Linked DNA regions of Homo sapiens. The protein of the gene in region 2 interacts with the protein of the main gene of each other region in a pairwise test. Each region holds a gene or a part of one and is shown on either strand. Other genes may lie near its edges.

Region 1 (6,835 bases), on a different chromosome or scaffold from region 2:
GCCTACAGCCGGGAATCTCAGGAGCCTGGTGCAGTGGGGGCTGCCTCTCCGAGTCCACACTCGGTCAGCTACACTACACTGGGCCCATGTGAGTGACTGTCTTTGTTACCGTCTCACCCTCTTCCCGGGGGCTGGCCACAGTCCACTTACCCAGAATTCAGGAAATAGAACACACAGAGCTGCTCCGGCAGGGTCTCTGACAGCCTCTGCGCATAGTCCACGATGTTGTCATGCAGGTACCGGCTGTTGGTGTTGAGCACCTGGTTCTGCTCATGTGCTGCTTGGACCACGAGAGGGTGGCAGTGCCCAACTGGAAGAGGGCCGCCTCCGTCACACGGCTGGCTCCACTCAGCCAGTCCCACTGGGCCTCCCCCAGCCCCAAGCTATAAACCCAGCCAGAAGAGATGTAGTTCTAGAGGGAGAGGTAGAAAGAGGGCAGTCTGAAGGCAGAGCAGGGAGAGAGAAGCTGGTTCTGGAAAGGCAGATCCAGGAGTTCCTGAGATTCTGGCAGAAGGAAAGCCGCTTCAGCAGAAGAACCCTGTCTAGAAAGCCCATGTCTTTAAGGAGGACTTTTTTTTTTTTTTTTAACAGGGCCTTACTCTGTCACCCAGGCTGGAGTGTATGGTGTGATCATGGCATTCACTGCATCCTCACACTCCTGGGCTCAAGTGGTCCTCCCACCTCAGCCTCCTGAGCAGGTGGGGCTATAGACACCAGTCACCATGCCTGGCTAATTTTTAAGTTTTTTTTTGGTAGAGACAAGGTCTCATTATGTTGCCCAGGCTGGAAGGCCTTTTGAGGCTTGTATGACAAAGGTGGGGTGGGGGGTGACTGTCAACTGGTTTCACTTCACCAGCCAAGGGGGCTGGTGGTAATCTTGATTGTCAAAGGCCAAGGATAATAACAGTGAATATGTACTGAGAGCTCACCATGTGCCAGGCACATTCAGAGCAAGCTACATAAATTAACACACTTAATTCTCCAAACACCTTAAAGTGGGTACCTAGTATCATTATGTCTTTCACAGATAAGCAAACTGAGGCACTGAGAATTAAGTAACTTGCCCGAGATCACAAGTTAGTAAGTAGGGGACAGGGATTTGAGCCCAAGCAGTCTAAGACTAGAGTCTCTGCTTTTTTTTTTTTTTTAACCTCAACTTTATTCATCTTCCATGTGCCTGCTGAGTCTCAGACTCCCTTTCTTTCCATCAGCTCTGGCAGCCTCATCAAGATGACTGAATTCCTACTTCAGCTCCCTTGCCTAGCACCTGAGATGGCCAATGGGGCTGAAGCACTGCCATGACCCCAGCACTTGGCCAGCACTGTGCTACGTTGCTGGTCACAGCTGGGCCATCTGCCACTTTGTGAGCTCATCATCAGTCCCAAGTGGAACTAGACTCACAGACCTAGATTGCTGACCCCTGCCTGGTTTAGCACAGCTCCAGATTGCAGAATTCCACAGCTATATTGCGAAGGCTGAGCCTCCTCTGCATACTGACAGTGCCTCAACTCCACCCAGGTTCTCCACACCTCTCGGCAATCTCAGGTCACCTTGGGACCAGGTTCACAGCACTGCCTTCCTCTCCTGCCCTGCCAGCCTGAGGTGTGATACTGACCGTGCGCCACATTGCTGATGCAATCGATGTATTCTGCCCCCTGTTCATCGTACATGTACTGCCCTTGGGCCCGGACAATCTTAACAGGATCCTCGGGAAAAAAGAGTCTGCAGGAAGAGCTGTGGGGACAGGCAAGGAGTGGACAGCCATGTCTGAAGACCGAAAGGGTGAAGTCTACTCATCGCAGACCCCCGCCCACCCCTTCCCAGTTTCTGGTGGCGGGGGGGAAATGAGAGCTGGAAGGGCAAGGTGCTGCTTCCCTGCCTTGTCTCTCCACTCCACAGGTGGTTGCAAAGCAGGAAGCAGATGGGGTAACAAGTCGCTGAAACTTCGGATTGTTTCTGAAAGCATTTTCAGCCTCTGTGGCCTCCTTGCTCATTTCTGCATGTGTCCGCGTCAGTCTCCCGGATCCTGAGAAAAGGTGGCTGCCCCGTCCCATGGGGACTCCATAAGGCCGCGTGTCTTCGATGGGATGGGCCAGGGCACCAACATTAGGTGCCTGGCTCTCAGCCCTAAACAGCTCCTTGCCAGCCACGTGGCCCTGCTGCCCCTCGCTGGGTGCCAGCCCTAAGCTCCAGTGGGAGGCGACCTCACCCACCGTCCCACCGAGGGCCCCCTCACAGGTCAAGTGTGCTGCCTGTGAACCGACTCCCCCGACTCTCCCTTGTCTGCCCTTTCAGCCCCCTCCCAGGTCACTCTCGAGCCAGGCCCAGGTGCTGCTGACGGGCCACCCTGGGTGAGGTCCTCTCAGGCGCCAGGGTGAAGGTCTTCTCCGGAGTAAAGGCTGCCAAGCGAGGCTGACACAGCCGAACAGCGGTGAGGGCGGGGCCGTCTCCTGAACTGGGCGGCCTGGAGACGGCGCTGTCGGGGAGGCGGCCCCGGAGACCACCCGCCGGGACTGCCCAACGGCGCCGCCCGCCTCGGGCCCTAGAAGCTCCAGCGGGGCCGGGGCAGCGGCCGGACGGGATGGGTAGCAGCGGCTTCCTAGCCGGAGGCGCGTGCGTAGTGCGTGCGTGCGTGCGTCGTGCGTGCGCGTGCCTCTCCGCGCAGCCCCGCGCCCCCCGCCGCCCGCCCCCCGCCCGGGTACCTGATGAGCCGTTGCCTCAGGGCCAGCGTGTCGGCCTTCGGGCGCTGGTCTGCGGCCATGGTGGGTGGCCGTCAGTCGGTGCCGTGACGCCACGCGGAGACGTCGCCGCGCGGGCTGGGCCTCCAAGGCCCCGCTCCGGGCCCCGCCCCTGCCTGGGTCGGGATTTGGGGCTCAGGTTCGCACTCGGCCCCGCCCCGAAGCGCCCGCGTTGCGGTGGTTCATTTCTTCGCTTGCCCACTGGGCCTGGCAGCCTTCCGGCCCGTGGTCGTGCCTTGGCAGTCCCGCGCAGGAACTCGAGCGCTGCCCCGTCTCTGGTTCCGGGACGCGCCCCGGGCCTCGCCCCGCAGGCCCCGCCCCGCAGGCCCCTGCGGCCTCCCTTCCGGGAAAGGGTCCCGGACGACCCCGCCCCTGCTCCCGGCGCCCAGGCGGGGCTCGGAGCTCCTGCAGGCCTTCTCTGGGCCAGACTCAGTCTTTGAGTCGCCTTGTGCATAAAATGGGATGAACTGTGAGGCCTAAGTGCGAGTATGTGACTGGTACCTTACCCGGGCCTGGTACACAGTAGGGGCCTCAGGGTGGGAGAAGCAGGTCCTAGGTTTTCCCAGCCCCATGAAGGGGCAGCAGGAAGAGCAGAAGGAGAGCCCAGGGTCCCTTCTGGGGCTGACCAAGGAGATCACCATGGGCTTGACCTTCAGGGCACCATAGTTCCTGCTAGAATCTAGGCAGGGTGAACCGGACGAGCTGTATCGTCGCTGAGAGAATCATGCAGCGTTTGGGCAAGAAGAGAGGTTGGGAATCCTCCTTGTGGTACATGTCGGTGACCCTGAAGCCCAGAAAGGGAAAGGGTTTTGTTGTCAGACACGCAGCAAGGCTGCAGAGGCTGGACTCCTACTGAGGTCTTCTTGACTCCCAGCCCAGGGAGTGAGAAGAAAAAGCCTCCCAAGGGGCTGGGATATGAGAGAAAAGCCCCCTCCTGGGGTGAGGCACTGGGGCTTTCTGCCTTGAAGAACCCTGGAACACGGGCCTGGGACTGCAGCAGGTGCAGGGGAGGCTCCTGATTGTCCCTTCTTTCTGTCCACATCATGATTCCCAGGCCTCTGCTTCACTCCCTCATTGCTGATTTCTTCTTCTCTTCCCAATACAGTTGTAAGATGCATAAGGCATTTATTGAACTCTTGACCTCAGATGATCTGCCTGCCTCGGCCTCCCAGAGTGCTGGGATTACAGGCCGGGTGAGCCACCGCACCCGGCCGCTTAAGGCATTTATTAAAGAACATTTGGAGTTTCTTTTTTCTTTATTGTGTAAAATATACATAACAAAATTTTACCATTTTAACCATTTTTAAGGATACAATTCAGTGGCAAAAGTACATTCACATCGTCGTGCAGCCATCACCACCATCCATGCAACAGGACTTTTTCATCTTCCCTAAAAGAATGGAATTTCTTATTTTTAACTGTAAAGCTGAATTGAATATTTTACATGATTTTTGGAAAAAATTCTTCCCAAATTAACTGCGAGGTTAACTGCTTGTGGCCTGTATTTTTTTTTTTTTTTAAAGAAAGGGTCTTATTCTGTTGTTCAGGCTGGAGTGCAGCATTGCAGTCTCTACCTCCCTGGGATCATGTGATCCTCCCATCTCAGCCTCTCAAGTACCTGCTACTACAGGTGCACGCCACCATACCCAGCCTGTACTTCGTTTCTGAGGATCAAGACCTCACAGACCGTGTGTGTGTGTGTGTATTTGTGTGTGTGTGAGTCCTATTTGGGCCCCGCCTTTCAGCCCTGTCTTGCAGCCCAAACTCCAGCCACAGCTGTGGCCCCGTGCAGCTCAGAGGAATCAGGTTGGCTCAGGGGCTTTTCCTGCTTTAAGGCAGAGGGTGAGAAGGCTGTAGCTGGGCCCGGCTAACATCTCACCTGCTCCTGGGTCAAGAGGTGATATAGTTGGAGGTCAGACCAGGTTGAGCCATTTCCTGGGCCAGGAGTATCTTATAGCATGGCACAGAACACCAGGAGGCCTCACCTTCTTCCTGCTCAGAAAAGCCCACTCCTTGTCTCTGGCCCTGTGCCAGGCACTCATCTGTCCTTTATTTCATGCCTGGCCCTCTAGGCAATGTTGGAGTCCAAGAGGGTAGGGGATGGAAGTGGCTGAGTCAGGATTTGAACCCAGGGCATGGTGTTTCTCAACAGGGTTGGCACCGGGATTCTTGTTGAGATGATTTGTCACTGGGTAGGACTGTCCTATGCATTTTAGGTGTTTGCTATCCCTGGCCCTGTCCCCTGAATGCCCAGGTGTCCTGCAATCATTGTGCTAACCAGAAGCATCCCATGTATTCCTAGTGGTCTCCTAGGGACCAGGAGGAAAGAGACCTGGTAAGTCCCCTTCACATTCATCTATAAAAAGGGATCGTCATCCTTGTGGTTAGTTTAGCTGTCATGGGACACAGCAGGACTCAGTAAATGTACTTCTCTCTCTTCCAGAAAGGGGTACTTTGAGGCTGTACTGCCTTTCTTGGCAGGAGGCCTGAGGCCCCCCAGTCCTTGAGTCTCAGCTGTGAAGCAGGGTGCTCCCCAGTGTCTCGGCTGGGACCTTGAACAAATCATTGAACCCTCTACCGCCTCTGTGCTCTCCCCGGGCACTTTGAGGACTCAGCCGACTCTACATTTTTAAGCTTGCAGTTGAAACGTTTGCAGCCATCGGGATACAAGGTATGAGACCGCAAGGGGGCAGCAGTGGGCCAAGAATGCCCCATCCTGCCTAAAGGAGCAGGAGAGACCCCCTCAGAAGACTGGGGAAGTGGGGGGAACACATGGCTTCTACCCCACGAGGATCTACCTGCCAATCACACAGCATCATGGAGCTGCCTATCAGATTCCATGCTCTGCCAGACAAGTTTCAGAAGGACGTATTAGAGGACAAACCCAAGAGCCTAGGTGCAGTCCCAAGCCTGCCACTATGTCCTGGCTGTGCATCCCTGGCCAGGTGACTACCCTCTCTGAGCCTCAGTGTTCCCCTATGTAAAATGGGCATATCGACACCTATCACACAAGCCCTGGGCTTCGCAGGGCTGGTGAGGGGATCAAGTGAGGTTCCTGGATGGAGGAAGGAGGGAACTGTGAAGTGTAGCATGCAGATGGTGAGGTTATGCTGGAACTCCAGAGGCGGCATGGACACCCAGTGACCTCCATCAGTCATCACAGCCCCACTGTGTTTCTCTTCCTTTTCCCACTACTGGCTTCCCTGTTGACCCAGACAACTGGCTGAGCGATGTGACCTTCCACTTATTGCCAGTTCCTTAGGGAGACAGAGGAGGGGACTGGATATATCTCTCCCTCCTTAGCCAGTGTGTGGCCGAGCCTCTTCTGCTTAGCAAGGCCATGTCACAGAAGTCTGAGGGTGACCACCCATACTGTGGCCTGCCCTAGGCTTCAGTCCTTGGAGACTCAGACACCATCAGTGCAATGCACCACCACCATCAGAGACACCATCACTGCAGGCCCTTTTTTTTTTTTTTTTTTTTTTTGAGACGGAGTTTCGCTCTTGTTGCCCAGGCTGGAGGGCAATGGTGCGACATCAGCTCACCACAACCTCTACCTCCTGGTTTCAAGCGATTCTTCTGCCTCAGCCTCCCGAGTAGCTGGGATTACAGGCATGCACCACCACCCACCTAATTTACAGGCATTACAGGATTACAGGATTACAGGCATGCACCACCCAGCTAATTTTGTATTTTTAGTAGAGACGGGGTTTCTCCGTGTTGGTCAGGCTAGTCTCGAACTCTCAACCTCAGGTAATCTGCCCGCCTCAGCCACCCCAAGTGCTGGGATTATAGGCGTGAGCCACCGCGCCCGGCCCATGGCCCTTCTTGCCTAGACCACCCTGGATGTGCTTGGTTTTGTCATCTGTAAGACGGTCCCTCTCTTAGTTGTTATAGGGACCAGCTGTGATGACAGAAGTGGGAACACTTTGCAGGACTGTGGCTGTTGCTCAGCAGCCTTGGAGTCAGGAGGAGAGATGAAAATCAGAATTGAGGGTGCTTCTGGGTGAGGGACACACCCTATACTCTTCGCATACTCTGCACTGGATCCTCACGGAACCACAATCTGAGTGGTAAGTAGTGCCCTCTCGTTTCAC
Region 2 (7,024 bases):
ATAGTGTTTCTGATTTAATAAATCTGGGATTAGGTCCAGGGATCAGTAACTAGTATAAGCCCACCAGGTGATTCTAATGTATAGCTGATTAAGAATGACCGCTGTAATCTTTCAGTTTCCTCTTCTGCAAAATGAAGATAGTAATAACATTTGAGAACTAAATGATATAATAAATGAAAAATTTAAGTTGTGCCTGGAAAATGGCAAGAGCTCCACTGCTTTTAAATAGTATTATCCTACGGTGCTTGTGAAGATTTTTTAAAAGGATTTTATTTTCTCATATTCAGTTGACAGAATTGGAATTAAAATTACTGTAATTCTTAATCATAGATCACCAGACCATGCAGTTTAGTCAAGGCTGTGCTGTTTTTTCTCCCAGAAATCTGGAAAATACTATCAGTTCACTATTTTTATCAGTATACCATTCTGCAAAGATGAAATGTGATTGCAAAAGTGCTGCCAAAGTAATTGAATGAAGAAAATTACATATTTGAATCTTCTACTTCAAAAATGAAAAACTGAAGTTTCCCGTTGGCTTTTAAAATGTTATGTCTGTCTAACAGGAAAAGACAATCAGCATCAAGGTTCTTACAGTGAGGGGGCTCAGATGAATGGCATTCAGCCAGAAGAAATTGGTAGATTGCGAGAAGAGATAGAAGAATTAAAACGTAATCAGGAACTTTTACAAAGCCAGCTGACTGAAAAGGACTCTATGATTGAAAATATGGTAAAGTAAATGTTTAAGAAGTTAAAATAAGAGTTCAAGAGTGGTTCTCATTATCCTGCCTTTTTTTTTTTTCCTTGGATCTCTTAAGCCAGAATATCATATGTTAAGATTTTACAGGATGGGCCAGGCACAGTGGCTTACGCCTGTAATCCTAGCACTTTGGGAGGCTGAGGTGGGCGGATCACCTGAGGTCAGGAGTTCAAGACTAGCCTGGCCAATATGGCGAAACCCTGTCTCTACTAAAAATACAAAAATTAGCCGGGCATGGTGGCAGGCACCTGTAGTCCCAGCTACGCAGGAGGCTGAGGCAGGAGAATCTCTTAAACCCAGGAGGTAGAGGTTGCAGTGAGCCGAGATCACCCCACTTCACCTCATTGCCTGTGCGACAGAGGGAGACTTTCCATCTAAAAAAAAAAAAAAAAAGATTTTACAGGATGAGCTTTAGAGTCAAACTGTTTAAACTTCAATGCTTCCTGGCTCATTGAATTTAAGCAATTTAGTTAACCTCTTTAAACTTGTTTCCTGATCTATAAAATGGTAGTGGTAATGTCTAGTTCATTGTTGTGAGATTTAATTTACTCTTCTAATAGATGGAAATTATTTAATAAATGTTTGCTTTTATGCTCTTTCTCCATATGAACGCAGGTAAATGCTTAGATTTAATAAATTGCTCGGTAAAATAAAAATTTTATTTTTTTTTCTTTAGAGACAGAGTCTCGCTCTGTTAGCCCAGTCTGGAGCGCAGTGGCACAATCTCGGCTCACTGCAACCTCCACCTCCCAGGTTCTAGCAGTTCTCCTGCCTCAGCCTCCCGAGTAGCTGGGATTATAGGTGCACGCTGCCACGTCCGGCTAATTTTTTGTATTTTAGTAGAGATAGGGTTTCACCGTGTTGCCCAAGCTGATCTTGCATTCCTGAGCTCAAGCAATCCACTGGCCTTGGCCTCCCAAGGATTACAGGCATGAGCCACCGCACCCAGCCTACAAATGGATTTTTAGCCATGAAAAAGTTGTAGACAATATGTGCTGTGTTGGAATTTTATCTTGGGCATAAAAATTAAAAGGTTGGTGTGAATTTTTTGGTAAGCACATATGATATAGTTTATATGTGTACAGTTCTGTTTTTTTTTCTCATCTCTTTAGACTGAATATATTTTATAGTTTATTTTTGTGCTATTTGCAGAAATCTTCCCAAACATCTGGCACAAATGAACAGTCTTCAGCAATAGTTTCAGCTAGAGATTCTGAACAAGTTGCAGAATTAAAACAGGTAATTTTCCACTTTGATCCAATTCTACTTTGTCATGTTTTAATTATAATAGAATAACAGCCCTATAGTTTCACAAATCTAGAACTATATTAGCAGATGTAAGTAAAATTTAAGTTAAGACAGCCATTTGAAAATCCAGAAGCTGTTTCTATTTATATGGTAATAGTACTTTGCTTTTTATTGTGTTTTTATTTTTCAGAGGTATTCCTTTTAAAAAATCTCAGCATCTCACCCATGTTATTTATAGATTATCAGTGAACTAACAAGGAAAAATTTAAATTTATAACTTGCAAATATGAAAATGTAAAATCTTATGCCTAATTTTAATATACTATGATAATTGCTTGACTAAATGTATGGGGTTTTTAAACTGTTTTGTCTAGAAAATATAGAATTTTAGAATTGGAAAAGAGAAGAAAGGTAAACTTACCTATATCTCAATTAAATGACTCCAGCTAAAAAGCAAAATAAACTTTTTCTGTGGTAATTTATAACATCTAGAAAAGCAAGTTAAACTTTTTTCTACTTGCTTATAGTATTTATAAATTCCTGTTAAACTAGATCATACAGATTTACCTTTATCCAATGAAAAAATTTAAATGTATTGTTCAAGAAAAGAATCAAAAGAGAGAAATGAACTCTGTATACTTACAATTAAATAATGTAGCAATTGGAAGAAAACTCTAGAGTATATTATCCCTAAACAGGTTCTGGGGTTGTTTTTCTTTCCTCCTCTCTTTTCTTCTCTCTCTTTTCTTCTTTCCCTCCTTTCTTTCTTATTATAAAAGAAATGCATACTTTTTTTTTTTTAATCCAAGCAATACTAAAAAATGACCATCCTCACTAACCTAGGACTAACTGTCTTCCTTCTCTCTCCACTAAGCAACTGGCCCTAGTCCACTGACATGGCTGCTTTGAAAGAGAAATGACTGAACATAGAGAAATTTTGTCTTATTTTGATAATGTCCATGTACCTCAGAGTAGATTCTAAATATCTGACCTCTTTTTAAAAAAAGAATCACTTATCATTTGAGGATTTTCAGGTCTCCAATATTTGTTCACAATGTTTTATTTGTGTGGGAAGATTAATATGCTCTTTTGGTTTTATTAAGTGTACCTATACTAGAACTGTATTAAAATTAAAGGGAATTAAGTTACTAATATATAGCCTTAGTTTGTAAATTCTAAGTAAAAATAAGCCATTTAATTATCTTTCCCAGTGAAACTTTAATTAGATATTTTTATAAAAAGAGAATTGCCTTTTAGTTTTTTTACTTTCTCCAGTTTATTTACTTTTATAAACTTTAGATTGTTAAAATATATGTATTTTTTAAGTGACAGTTTTGTTTTTTATAATATATAGTAAAGTACTATATATAGAAAACTGTAACTCATTTTAATAACTAAACAAAATAAATTAGAAAAGCCACAAATGTACATGATAGAAATTTTAAAGAGAACCAAAAGAAAAGAGCCTTTTACTTGCCATTGTCCCACCACTTACTCAGTGTCTCCAGACATTACCAAATGTCCTCGGGGATGGGGGGATATGGGGAGAAATCACTCCTGCTGAGAGCCATTGTTATAATTGCCTTTCTTTTCCTGTACTTTTTTTGGGGGAGGAGAAGGTGAGAAGTTTGGAAATTCAACATTAATAAAAACTTTCAATTAATACCCTGGTTTTCATTATAGTACTACTGCTTTCATCTGTGTTTGGTGGTCCCTAGTCTAAAGATGTCCTGTTTTGCCCAGCCACATAATAAACCTCAAGTCTTCATCCAGGAAAGGAGGAACGGTTGCCTGATGCCTAAGATTGAGACAGGGATCTGATGATCTATTTCTTAAATAGTCTTTTAACCAGGCCTGCAGTTTTTAACCTCATTTTTATCTGTACTTCCAGTGGTATCTAATGATACCAGTTCCTAACCTTTCTGGTAGTTAATGCATTCATTGTAAGTCAGGTACTATCTTAACTTTCTCAGTGGTCATCCTAGCTTTCAGCTTTCTCAGGTGTGCTGATTTAGTTATCACTGTTACTTGCTTTCTCAAAATTCCCCAATTATATTGCTCTCTTCTCTTACTGTTCTTGTTTTTGTAGGTTTCTTCCTCTCTCCCTCCCATCCTTCCTTTCTTTCTTCCTTCTCCCCTCCCTTCCTGTCTTTTATGATTTTTTTTTTTTGCATGGGATTTCAGGAGGGAGCAGAGGTAAATGAATGTGTTGAATTTTCCATCTTGAACCCAAAATTCAAGAATAGTTCTTTAGAGTTAGATTTTAAAAGTAGGAGGTTGTAAATCATTTTTTTAAATGTCTCCCTGTAAATATTTCCTTGATGAATTTAATACCATTTAATGTTATGACTCAACTATTTTTGTCTCTTAGGAACTGGCAACTTTAAAGTCTCAGTTAAACTCACAATCTGTGGAGATCACCAAACTACAGACAGAAAAGCAGGAACTGTTACAGAAAACAGAAGCGTTTGTAAGTATTTTCTCTTTTTTCTCTGGAAGGTAATAAAGACAAGGTTGATGTATTATTTCTTAGCCACAATTAAAAAGAAACAAATTCATCAGATAGCACCTTCTCTTTAGATTACTTACTAGCCGGTATTCTAGTAACATAGGCTTCATGTTCATGGTGACAGTCGTTTTATAGTCAGTCTCACCAGATTAGTTTATTCAGTTACTTAATAGTTTATTTTGCTGGTATTACATTCTATTTCTGTCCCTTCAGTCCAAGCTGGCAGTTTTTCTGCTGTCATAAAATATTCAGAAACCGTTGTTGTTTTCTCCAGAACATTCCTTCTCATACTTTTGCAATATAGGTAGACTGAGAATTTTCCAAATCTTCTAATTCTGATTCTTTTTTGCTTAGCAATTTCTTCTTCAATTTATCTCTCTTCTCTCACATTTAACTTTAAGCAACAAGGAGAAACCAGGCTGCACTCCAACACTTTGCTTAGAAACCTCAGTAAAATATCCAAATTCATTATTTACAAGTTCTGCTGTCCACAAAACACTGCAACACTATTTGGCCAAGTTATTTGCCACTTTATAACAAGGATTGCCTTTCCTCCGATTCCCAGTAACATGTTCCTAGTTTTCATCTGAGACCTCACCAAAAGCACCTTTAACATTCATATTTCTGCCAGCATTCTTCTTCTCACTATGACCATGAAGCTTCTTTCCAACTCCGCTCTTTTCTTTCTGAGCTCTCACCAGAATCACTTAATGTCCATATCTCTAGCAACAGTCTCATCAAGGTAATGCAGGCTTTGTCTACCATGCACCTCTCTTACAGCCTCTACTCATTACACAGTTCCAAAGCTACTTCCACATTTTTAGATATTTGTTGTGTCACTACCCGACTTCCTAGTATTTTAGAAAAAAGACAAGGAAAGACTGAAAAACTGTTATTCAGGAGTGTCTCCTCTAGCACTTGAGAAAAGATTTGCATTTCACTAATAATGATATTTGGCTCAATTTATCTACCTATCTAGGGTGGTAGTATGGACTTATAGGAAATTTATGAAGGAAAGGCTTTGAAAAATATTCTGTGTTTATTAAATGCTGGGTTACAGTTACATTAGAGCTGCCTTGCTGATTACTTTTCTGGGCTTACCTACCTTGAGGCACCTTAGCCCAGCCTTCCTCGTACTCTTATGAGATTTGATGCTCTTCCATGTGGGAACAGCTCATCTGACAGTGGAGAGCACTTTGTTGCACATAAATACATAAGGAATTATATTTTCTGTTAGTGAAAGTAAAATATCAAAATGGCAAAAAAATTAAATAACCCTTTGGGAGTTCATATTGATTGTAATGTTTAAGAGACATCTTTTTTTCCAATTTCTAATTTCAGGCAAAATCAGTTGAGGTACAAGGAGAGACCGAGACTATAATAGCCACCAAAACTACTGATGTAGAAGGAAGACTGTCAGCATTATTACAAGAGACCAAAGAGTTAAAGGTTTGTTTTTGGTGCAACTTTTATTTACTGCATATGATATGAAATGAACTCTAGGAAATTTTATATATCTTTCAAATTCTTAGATTTATGAAGAAAGCTAATGATGTGTAATTTTATCTCACAACATTTTCACTCCTATATTGATGATTTAAGATGGCACAAATGAAAATTTTTTTTGTTTTGGGTTTTTTTGTTTTGTTTTGTTTTTTTGAGATGGAGTTTCGCTCTGTCACCAGACTGGAGTACAGTGGCGCGATCTCGGCTCACCACAACCTCTGCCTCCCAGGTTCAAGCAATTCTCCCGCCTCAACCTACTGAGTAGCTGGGACTACAGGCGTGCACCACCACACCCAGCTAATTTTTGTATTTTTAGTACAGACAGGGTTTCACCACGTTGGCCAGGATGGTCTCCATCTCTTGACCTCGTGATCCACCTGCCTTGGCCTCCCAAAGTGCTGGAATGCTGGAATTACAGGTGTGAGCTGCCGCACCCAGCCACAAATGAAGCTTTTAAAATACTATTTCAAATAATGATAATATGTAAGATAAGCATACATATGCATGTACTATAAAAGTAAAATTTATTGAAAATATTTTTGTTTTCTTTCTTTCTTTTTCTTTTTTTTTTTGAGAGAGAGTCTCAATTTTGTGTTCCAGGCTGGATGGAGTGCAGTGGCATGATCTCAGCTCACTGCAGCCTCCACCTCCCAGATTCAAGCGATTCTCCTGCCTCAGCCTCCTGAGTAGCTGGGATTTCAGGCACCTGCCAACATGCTCAGCTAATTTTTGTACTTTTAGTAGAGACGAGGATTCGCCATGTTGGCCAGGCTGGTCTCAAACTCCTGACCTCAGGTGATCTGCCCGCATTGGCCCCCCCCAAAGTGCTGGGATTACAGGCGTGAGCCACCACACCCGGCCTGTGTTTTCTTTTTAAGATCAACATCTAATCACAATAACAAAACAAGGAGTACAAATTTAGCTAATACACAAGCCACATGTAGGCTTTCCATAAGCCGTGGAACATAGGCACATTAAATCCTGTCAGCATATTATTGTGTGAC
Region 3 (7,419 bases), on a different chromosome or scaffold from region 2:
CATCTGCATCATCCTTCTTTCTCCCTTTTCCAACAACACATTTACACTTCGATGGGGCTTTCTGGCCTTTGTGCCTTTGAAGATGTTGGTCCTTCCGGTTAGAACTTCTTTCCTCATCTCCCTCCTTTTTCCCTGACAAATTCCCACTCATCCTTCAAGATGCAGATCAAGCATCACCTCCTCTGGGAGGCCATCCCTAATTACCCTCCTTCCATTAGGATTGGATGCCTCCATGTGCTCCCTTAGTACACGGCCCTTGCCTCTACTATAACACTAATTAGCTATTTACTTACTTTCACTCCAGCATTTCACCAAGTTCCTTGAGGGCAAAGACTGTCATACATCTTTATATCCTCAGCATCTACAGTCGTGCCTTATTTTACTTAGCATAATGTCCTCAAAGTTTTTATTGTTGTTGAGATGGAGTCTTGCTCTGTCACCCAGGCTGGAGTGCAGTGATGCGATCTCGGCACGCTGCAACCTCCACCTCCGGGGTTCAAGGGATTCTCCTACCTCAGCCTCCTGAGTAGCTGGATTACAGGCATGCACCACCATGCCCAGCTAAGGTTTTGTTTTCATTTTTGTTTTTTAGGATGGAGTCTCGCTCTGTTGCCCACGCTGGAGTGCAGTGGCATGAGTTCAAGGGGGTTCAAGTGATTCTCCCGCCTCACCCTCCCAAGTAGCTGGGATTACAGGCGCCTGCCACCATGCCTGGCTAATTTTTGTATTTTTAGTAGAGATGGGGTTTCACCATGTTGGCCAGGCTGGTCTTGAACTCCGGACCTCAGGTAATCTGCCTGCCTTGGCCTCCCAAAGTGCTGGGATTACAGGTGTGAGCCACTGGGCCCCGCCTTTTTTTTTTTTTTTTTTTGTATTTTTAGTAGAGACAGGTTTTCGCCATGTTGGCACGGCTGGTCTCAAACTCCTGACCTCAGGTCATCTGCCAGCCTCAGCCCCACAAAGTGCTGGGATTACAGGCATGAGCCACCGTGCCCGACCTCAAAGATAATCTATGTTGTAGCATGTGACAGAATTTCCCTCTTTTTATATGGCTGAATAATAGTTCATCATATGCATATACCATCTTTCTTTCTTTCTTTCTCTTTTTCTTTCTTTCTTTCTTTTCTTTTTCTCTTTCTTTCTCTCTCTCTTTCCTTCCTTCCTTCCTTCCGTCTTCCTTCCATCCTTCCTTCCTTCCTTCCTTCCTTCTCTCTCTCTCTCTCTTTCTTTCTTTCTTTCCTTTTTGGAGACAGAGTCTCGCTCCATCCCTTAGGCTGGAGTGCAGTGGCATGATCTTGGCTCACTGCAACCTCCGTCTCCTGGGTTCAAGCGAGTCTCCTGCCTCAGCCTCCCGAGTACCTAGGATTACAGGCACCCACCACCATGCCCAGCTGATTTTTGTATTTTTAGTAGAGATAGGGTTTTGCCATGTTGGCCAAGCTGGTCTTGAATTCCTGGCCTCAGGTGATCCACCTGCCTCGGCCTCCCAAAGTGCTAGGATTACAGACGTGAGCCACCGCGCCCGGCCCATACCACATTTTCTTTATCCATTAATCCATGATGGACATTTGGGTTACTTCTACCTTTTTGCTATTGTGAATAATGTTGCCATAAATATGGGTGTGCAAATATCTTTGAGATCCCACTTTCAATTCTTTTGGCTATATAACCTAGAAGTGAGATTGCTGGATCATGTGGTAATTCTATTTTTAATCGTTTGAGGAAACTCCGTACTGTTTTCCCTGGTGGGTGCACCATTTTACATTCCCTTCAGCAATGCATAAGCGTTCCAATTTTTCCACATCCTTGCTAACACTTATTTTCTGTGCTTGAAAAAAATACTAGCCATCCTAATGGGTGTAAGATGATATTATTATTGTAGTTTTGATTTGCATTTCTCTAATGATTAGCAATTTGAGCATCTTTTCCTATGCTTTTTGGCCTCTTGTATATCTTCTTTGGAGGAATGTCTATTCAGGTCGTTTGCCCAGTTTTTTGAAAATTGGGTTACTTGTTTTTCTGTTGTCGAGTTGTAGGAGTTTTTTATATGTTCTGCATATTAACGTATCAGATATATGCTTTGCAATTATTTTTTCCCATTCCATACAAATTCCTTTTCTCTCTATTGACTGTTTTGCTTGATATGCAGACACTTTAAAATTTGATATAGTCCCATTTGTCTATTTTCGCTTTTGTTGCCTGTGCTTTTGGTATTTTATCCAAAAAATTGAGGGAGAAGAAAAGGAAAAATCAGTTAGGTAGACAGCTAAGGCTAGCCCTTGGAGAAGCAGTCTGCCTGAAAAATCACAGCTACAAACAAAATAGAGCAGCTTAGGCAAAACTCAGGCTGCACCTGCACAGATAAGCAGGTAGGGTCCAGCACAGACGCTTTTCATTCTTCGTGTAATTGGCGAGCTCCCAGGAAAAACTTTCCTCCCCTTTTCAGGTATATACACAGTGGACTCCGTGGGAACTTGCACAGGAAGGAGGGGGGCTTACCTAAAACAAACCTACAGTGATACAAACAAGAGAACCCACGCTTTGTGCTTGCCTAGAGACATACCCACATCGGCAGAAGATAAGGGAAGTTGCACAGACAGATTTATTCATAAGAGAAGTTACTCAAACAACTATAGAGATGAGAGGAGTTTCTTATAATAGGTTTTGAATTCAGCTGTAAAAATGGCACCCCACTTGGGCTCCCCTCTCTGCTGTGGAGAGCTTTCTTCTTTTGCTTATTAAACTTTTGCTTCAACCTCACTCTTTGTGCCCATGCTCCTTAGTTTTCTCGGTCGTTAGACAAGTTCGGATAACACCTTAGACAATGAGACCATTAACCCTTACCTGTTTCAACATTTTTATCAAATCCAAGGCCATGAAGCTTTCCCCCTATGTTTTCTACTAAGAATGTTATATTTTTAGGTCTTTAATCTATTTGGAGTTATTTTTTGTGTATGGTCCAAGGTAAAGGTCCATCTTCATTCTTTTGCATGTGGATATCTAGTTTTTCCCAACACTGTTGAGGAGATTGTCCTTTTTCCATTGTGTGGTCTTGGCACTCTTTTTGAAGATTATTCTAACATATATGCAGTGTTGCAGGTGATTAGCAGCTTTCTGGGCTGGTGACATGGGTGGTAGGAAGAATTTACCAACACAGTTGTAGGTAAAGAAAGGCAGGTTTATTAGATAAAGTATGAAAATACATTGCAAGGGTGCAACAGGCAGGTCAGCAAGAGAGAAGCTGACTGCTAGGAAACAAAGGCTTGCTGGGGATTTTGTAGAATGGTGCTTATGTTGTGGGTGGAAGAGGGCTTTGTGCAGTACTAATAATGCCAGGGTTGCAGTGAACTAACTTCCATTTTTCTATCAGCTGAGGGTCTGGTGATGGCTGGGCACAGGCAGATTGTGAGTTATTTGCACAGCAGGGCTATGTGTCCTGGACCACGAAGAAAGGCAGACTTATGGCTTGTCTGCTTTCTCCTTTTGCTTCCCTTCGTCCAGCCAGCCTGACTCCTTTTCCCTAATTAGGACTCCACACGCAAGGGTTTGTTCTGTTCCAGAATAGAGACACGTCGATGTATCTATCTTTATACCAGTACTATAGCTGCTACTTCTTGACCAATTACAGCTTTAGTATCTCTCTCACCTGTCCTCCCTATACAAAAGATATATAAAATATACTCACTGTACTGAGTATCTTCCTGCAGCATTCAGTCTGGAGCAAAGCCTGCTTCCTTCAACCCTTTCCAAAATCCCCAAATAAAAGCCCAAAATCTGTAGAGGATCTTCCTAACATCCTCGTGCTGAGATGCCCTGAAATTCTCCATAACTCATGACTGAGTAATAAAACCAACTTGCTTAATTAAAGTTGGTTTCTTGTAGTCCTGGCCGGAGGACATTGACTTACAAAAATATAGGATTAGTATCTTCAAAATAAATAGACAGTAAACATCAACAAGGATTCACACCCCAATAATGAAATTGGGCAGAAAAAGGAAAAATAATCATGAAATGCACAGTAAAGATGGCTCCATAATATTGAAAAAAATTTTACTTCAAATGCATAAAATGATGCTTCTGATTCAGCTGGTGCGACATTTATTTCACATTTGAGTTCAGCTGCTCCTGATGTCTCTTTCCTGAAAATTTCAATACTAAGAGCTCGAGAAACCCTGTATTTGGGGAAGCTTATCCTTCACCATCAACTTTGGGGGTAGGGGTCAGAGGGAACAAGGGTGGAAAGGCCGCGCTGAATGGGGCCGAAGCTCCGCCCCTCAGCGATAAGTCCAGATTCCTGCGGCCGACGTGGTCCTCCGAGGGAGCAGCAGAGCCGCCGAGGCTGGCGAGTCCCAGGGGAAGGATGTTCTAGCCGGAGTCTACTCGATGGTAGGGCAGGAAGCCGCCTTGTCTCTGGGCGCGGCCATGTTGGAGGCTCCGGGCCCGAGTGATGGCTGCGAGCTCAGCAACCCCAGCGCCAGCAGAGTCAGCTGTGCCGGGCAGATGCTGGAAGTGCAGCCAGGATTGTATTTCGGTGGGGCCGCGGCCGTCGCGGAGCCAGATCACCTGAGGGAAGCGGGCATCACGGCCGTGCTAACAGTGGACTCGGAGGAGCCCAGCTTCAAGGCGGGGCCTGGGGTCGAGGATCTATGGCGCCTCTTCGTGCCAGCGCTGGACAAACCCGAGACGGACCTACTCAGCCATCTGGACCGGTGCGTGGCCTTCATCGGTCAGGCCCGCGCTGAGGGCCGTGCGGTGTTGGTGCACTGGTGAGTGGCCGGGTCAGTGGGTGACGTGCCCCGCCAAGCTTCCAGCCGGCCCCCGTCGCCCCTTACCTTCCGAGGCCGTCGGGAGGACAAGAGCGCGGTCATGCCGCGTGAACCTCCTCCCGCTGCCTCCCGCAGGAGGCGTGTTTCCAAGAGAGGAGGAGGGTTGAGGCGGGCCCCTGGTGTGTGCAGGCTTTCATTCATTCATGCTTTAGTTGGTTCTTCCTGCAGCAGCAGAGGGCGGGGGAGGTGTCATCTGATAAATGACAAATTACCTACACCCTAAGGAGTTTACAGCTCTGTTGGAGAAGCTAGACACCCACCCCGATTATTGTAATGCAGATTAGGTTGCTTGGTGTCTTGTAAACGGGATTTACAAAGATTTAGGGTTAAATGTTTTTGTTTGGGATGGGTGGCGGGTGGTTGATGAAGAGATGAATTGGTTTGGATCTAAAGGATCCCTGGGCTTTGCCTAGGGAGGAGATGGTTGCAGCAAAGACAAAAAGAAAATGGGAATCCCGCAGGGCGCGGTGGCTCACGCCTGTAATCCCAGCACTTTGGGAGGCAGGAGGATCACAAGGTGAGGAGTTCGAGATCAGGCTGGCTAATATGGTGAAACCAAAAATACAAAAATTAGCCGGGCGTGGTGGCTCTCGCCTGTAGTCCCAGCTACTCGGGAGGCTGAGGCAGGAGAATCACTTGAACCTGGGAGGCGGAGGTTGCAGTGAGCCGAGGTCATGCCACAGCACTCCAGCCTGGGCAACAGAGCGAGACTCCATCCCTCCCCCCAAAAAAAGAAAATGGGAATCCCTAAGCAGTTCTTGGTTGGATTGGAGTATAATAATCGTTTAAATTTATTGAGCACATAAAAGAAGATAGTGATGAAATCAAAAGAAGTCTGGGACCAGATTTTGAGGTCCCTGAATGCTAAGATGAAAGGAGATTGGATTTGTTTTTGTTTTGTTTTATTTATTTTTATTTTGATATAGGGTCTTGCTCTGTCACCCAGGCTACAGTGTAGTAGCGTAATTACGGCTCACTGCAGTCTCAACCTCCCAGGCTCAAGTGAACCTCCTGCCTCGGCCTCCAGAGTAGCTGGGACTACAGACCCCACCACATCCGGCTAATTTTTTGTAGAGGTGGGGTCTCACTTTGTTGCCCAGGCTGGTCTCCAACTCTTGGACTCAACCAATCCTCTCACCTCGCCTCCCAAAGTGCTGGGATTTCAGGCGTAGGTAAGCCACTGTGTCTAGCCAGGAGTTTGGATTTGTTCTGAGCCATTATAAAAATTTTAAAAATTACTGTTATTATTTTTGAATAGGTAATAGATTCACGTGGTTCAGAATTCAAAAGGAAAAAGGAATAATTATTTTGTACCTTGATAATATTTCAGAGGCAATGGGCTTATTTGAGAAGCAAAAATGAAGTGGGCCTAAACTTTACTATTAATAGGGGGCTGGGCTTTGTGTGTTTTTTTTTTTAATTGTTGCTATTTGCTGTTTTATTTTAAAGGTCTCTTTTTCAGTCATGCAGGAGTCAGTCGAAGTGTGGCCATAATAACTGCTTTTCTCATGAAGACTGACCAACTTCCCTTTGAAAAAGCCTATGAAAAGCTCCAGATTCTCAAACCAGAGGCTAAGTGGGTTCTTTTTTTATAGTAATAATTATGCTTTTGTGATATAATTTTAAGAAAATGAAACTTTATATTTCTTTATCATTACAGGATGAATGAGGGGTTTGAGTGGCAACTGAAATTATACCAGGCAATGGGATACGAAGTGGATACCTCTAGTGCAATTTATAAGCAATATCGTTTACAAAAGGTTACAGAGAAGTATCCAGGTAAGTAATAATTGCTAGTGTGTAATGGGCTTTCTAGATGACATTTACTTTAGCATTGTATGCTTTACCTTACTTCCAGCAATCCCTGAGAAACTATTGTTTCTTTTTGAAACTGATTTAGCCAGAAATAACCTATTCAAAATCACATGGTTTATAAATGGCAGGGTCAGGATTTGAATTCAGGCAGCCCGTGCCCAGAACCTAAGCACTTAAATCACTGTCCTCTCCTACCTTAGCCTGATTTCTCAACACTGGAATTTGATTTTTTTTTTTTTTTAATTTTTGAGGTTAGCACTTGTTGCCTCAATTTGACATTAACTGAATTTATCTGAAAATGCAGAGTTGATTTTGACAAATAAATACATTTTAATTATGTCATATAGAATTGCAGAATTTACCTCAAGAACTCTTTGCTGTTGACCCAACTACCGTTTCACAAGGATTGAAAGATGAGGTTCTCTACAAGTGTAGAAAGTGCAGGTAAACTATTTTATATCCTTTGGATATTTTATCTTGTCTCAGTAGCTGAAAAGTACTTAATGTTTTATTTTCTTAAATTTCTGTAGGAAGATTTTGTTTAATTGAAATTTTTAGTTCAGATCTGTTTTCAGAAAGAATATAAATTCTTAAAAAGAGAAATAATCAGATTGTAAGGGTTATTGAAAATTTAAGTAGTGTAATCAATGTTACATTATTTTGTTCTCTAAGCAATATTGCACATTTTGCTGGGCGCAGTGGCTCACGCCTGTAACCCCAGCACTTTGGGAGGCCGAGGCAGGCAGATCACCTGAGATTGGGAATTTGAGACCAGCCT

What was found. The genes of interacting proteins can lie anywhere in the genome.
Region 1: the proteins of USO1 (region 2) and PHYKPL interact in binary tests that used the Homo sapiens proteins (3 or more experiments, as listed by UniProt).
Region 3: the proteins of USO1 (region 2) and DUSP12 interact in binary tests that used the Homo sapiens proteins (3 or more experiments, as listed by UniProt).

Annotation. Positions count from the first base shown.
Region 1 is NC_000005.10:178,229,790-178,236,624, forward strand, and holds the start of PHYKPL (5-phosphohydroxy-L-lysine phospho-lyase), read right to left. Parts: upstream 3,014-6,835; 5' UTR 2,762-3,013; coding exon 2,703-2,761; exon of another isoform or gene 2,055-2,702; coding exon of another isoform or gene 1,880-2,054; intron 1,735-1,879; coding exon 1,616-1,734; intron 311-1,615; coding exon 151-310; intron 1-150.
Region 2 is NC_000004.12:75,804,577-75,811,600, forward strand, and holds part of USO1 (general vesicular transport factor p115), read left to right. Parts: intron 1-563; coding exon 564-727; intron 728-1,909; coding exon 1,910-1,996; intron 1,997-4,376; coding exon 4,377-4,475; intron 4,476-5,855; coding exon 5,856-5,963; intron 5,964-7,024. UniProt on the Homo sapiens protein: General vesicular transport factor required for intercisternal transport in the Golgi stack; it is required for transcytotic fusion and/or subsequent binding of the vesicles to the target membrane.
Region 3 is NC_000001.11:161,745,380-161,752,798, forward strand, and holds the start of DUSP12 (dual specificity protein phosphatase 12), read left to right. Parts: upstream 1-4,406; 5' UTR 4,407-4,422; coding exon 4,423-4,766; intron 4,767-6,275; exon of another isoform or gene 6,276-6,288; coding exon 6,289-6,402; intron 6,403-6,486; coding exon 6,487-6,605; intron 6,606-6,988; coding exon 6,989-7,085; intron 7,086-7,419. UniProt on the Homo sapiens protein: Dual specificity phosphatase; can dephosphorylate both phosphotyrosine and phosphoserine or phosphothreonine residues. Can dephosphorylate glucokinase (in vitro).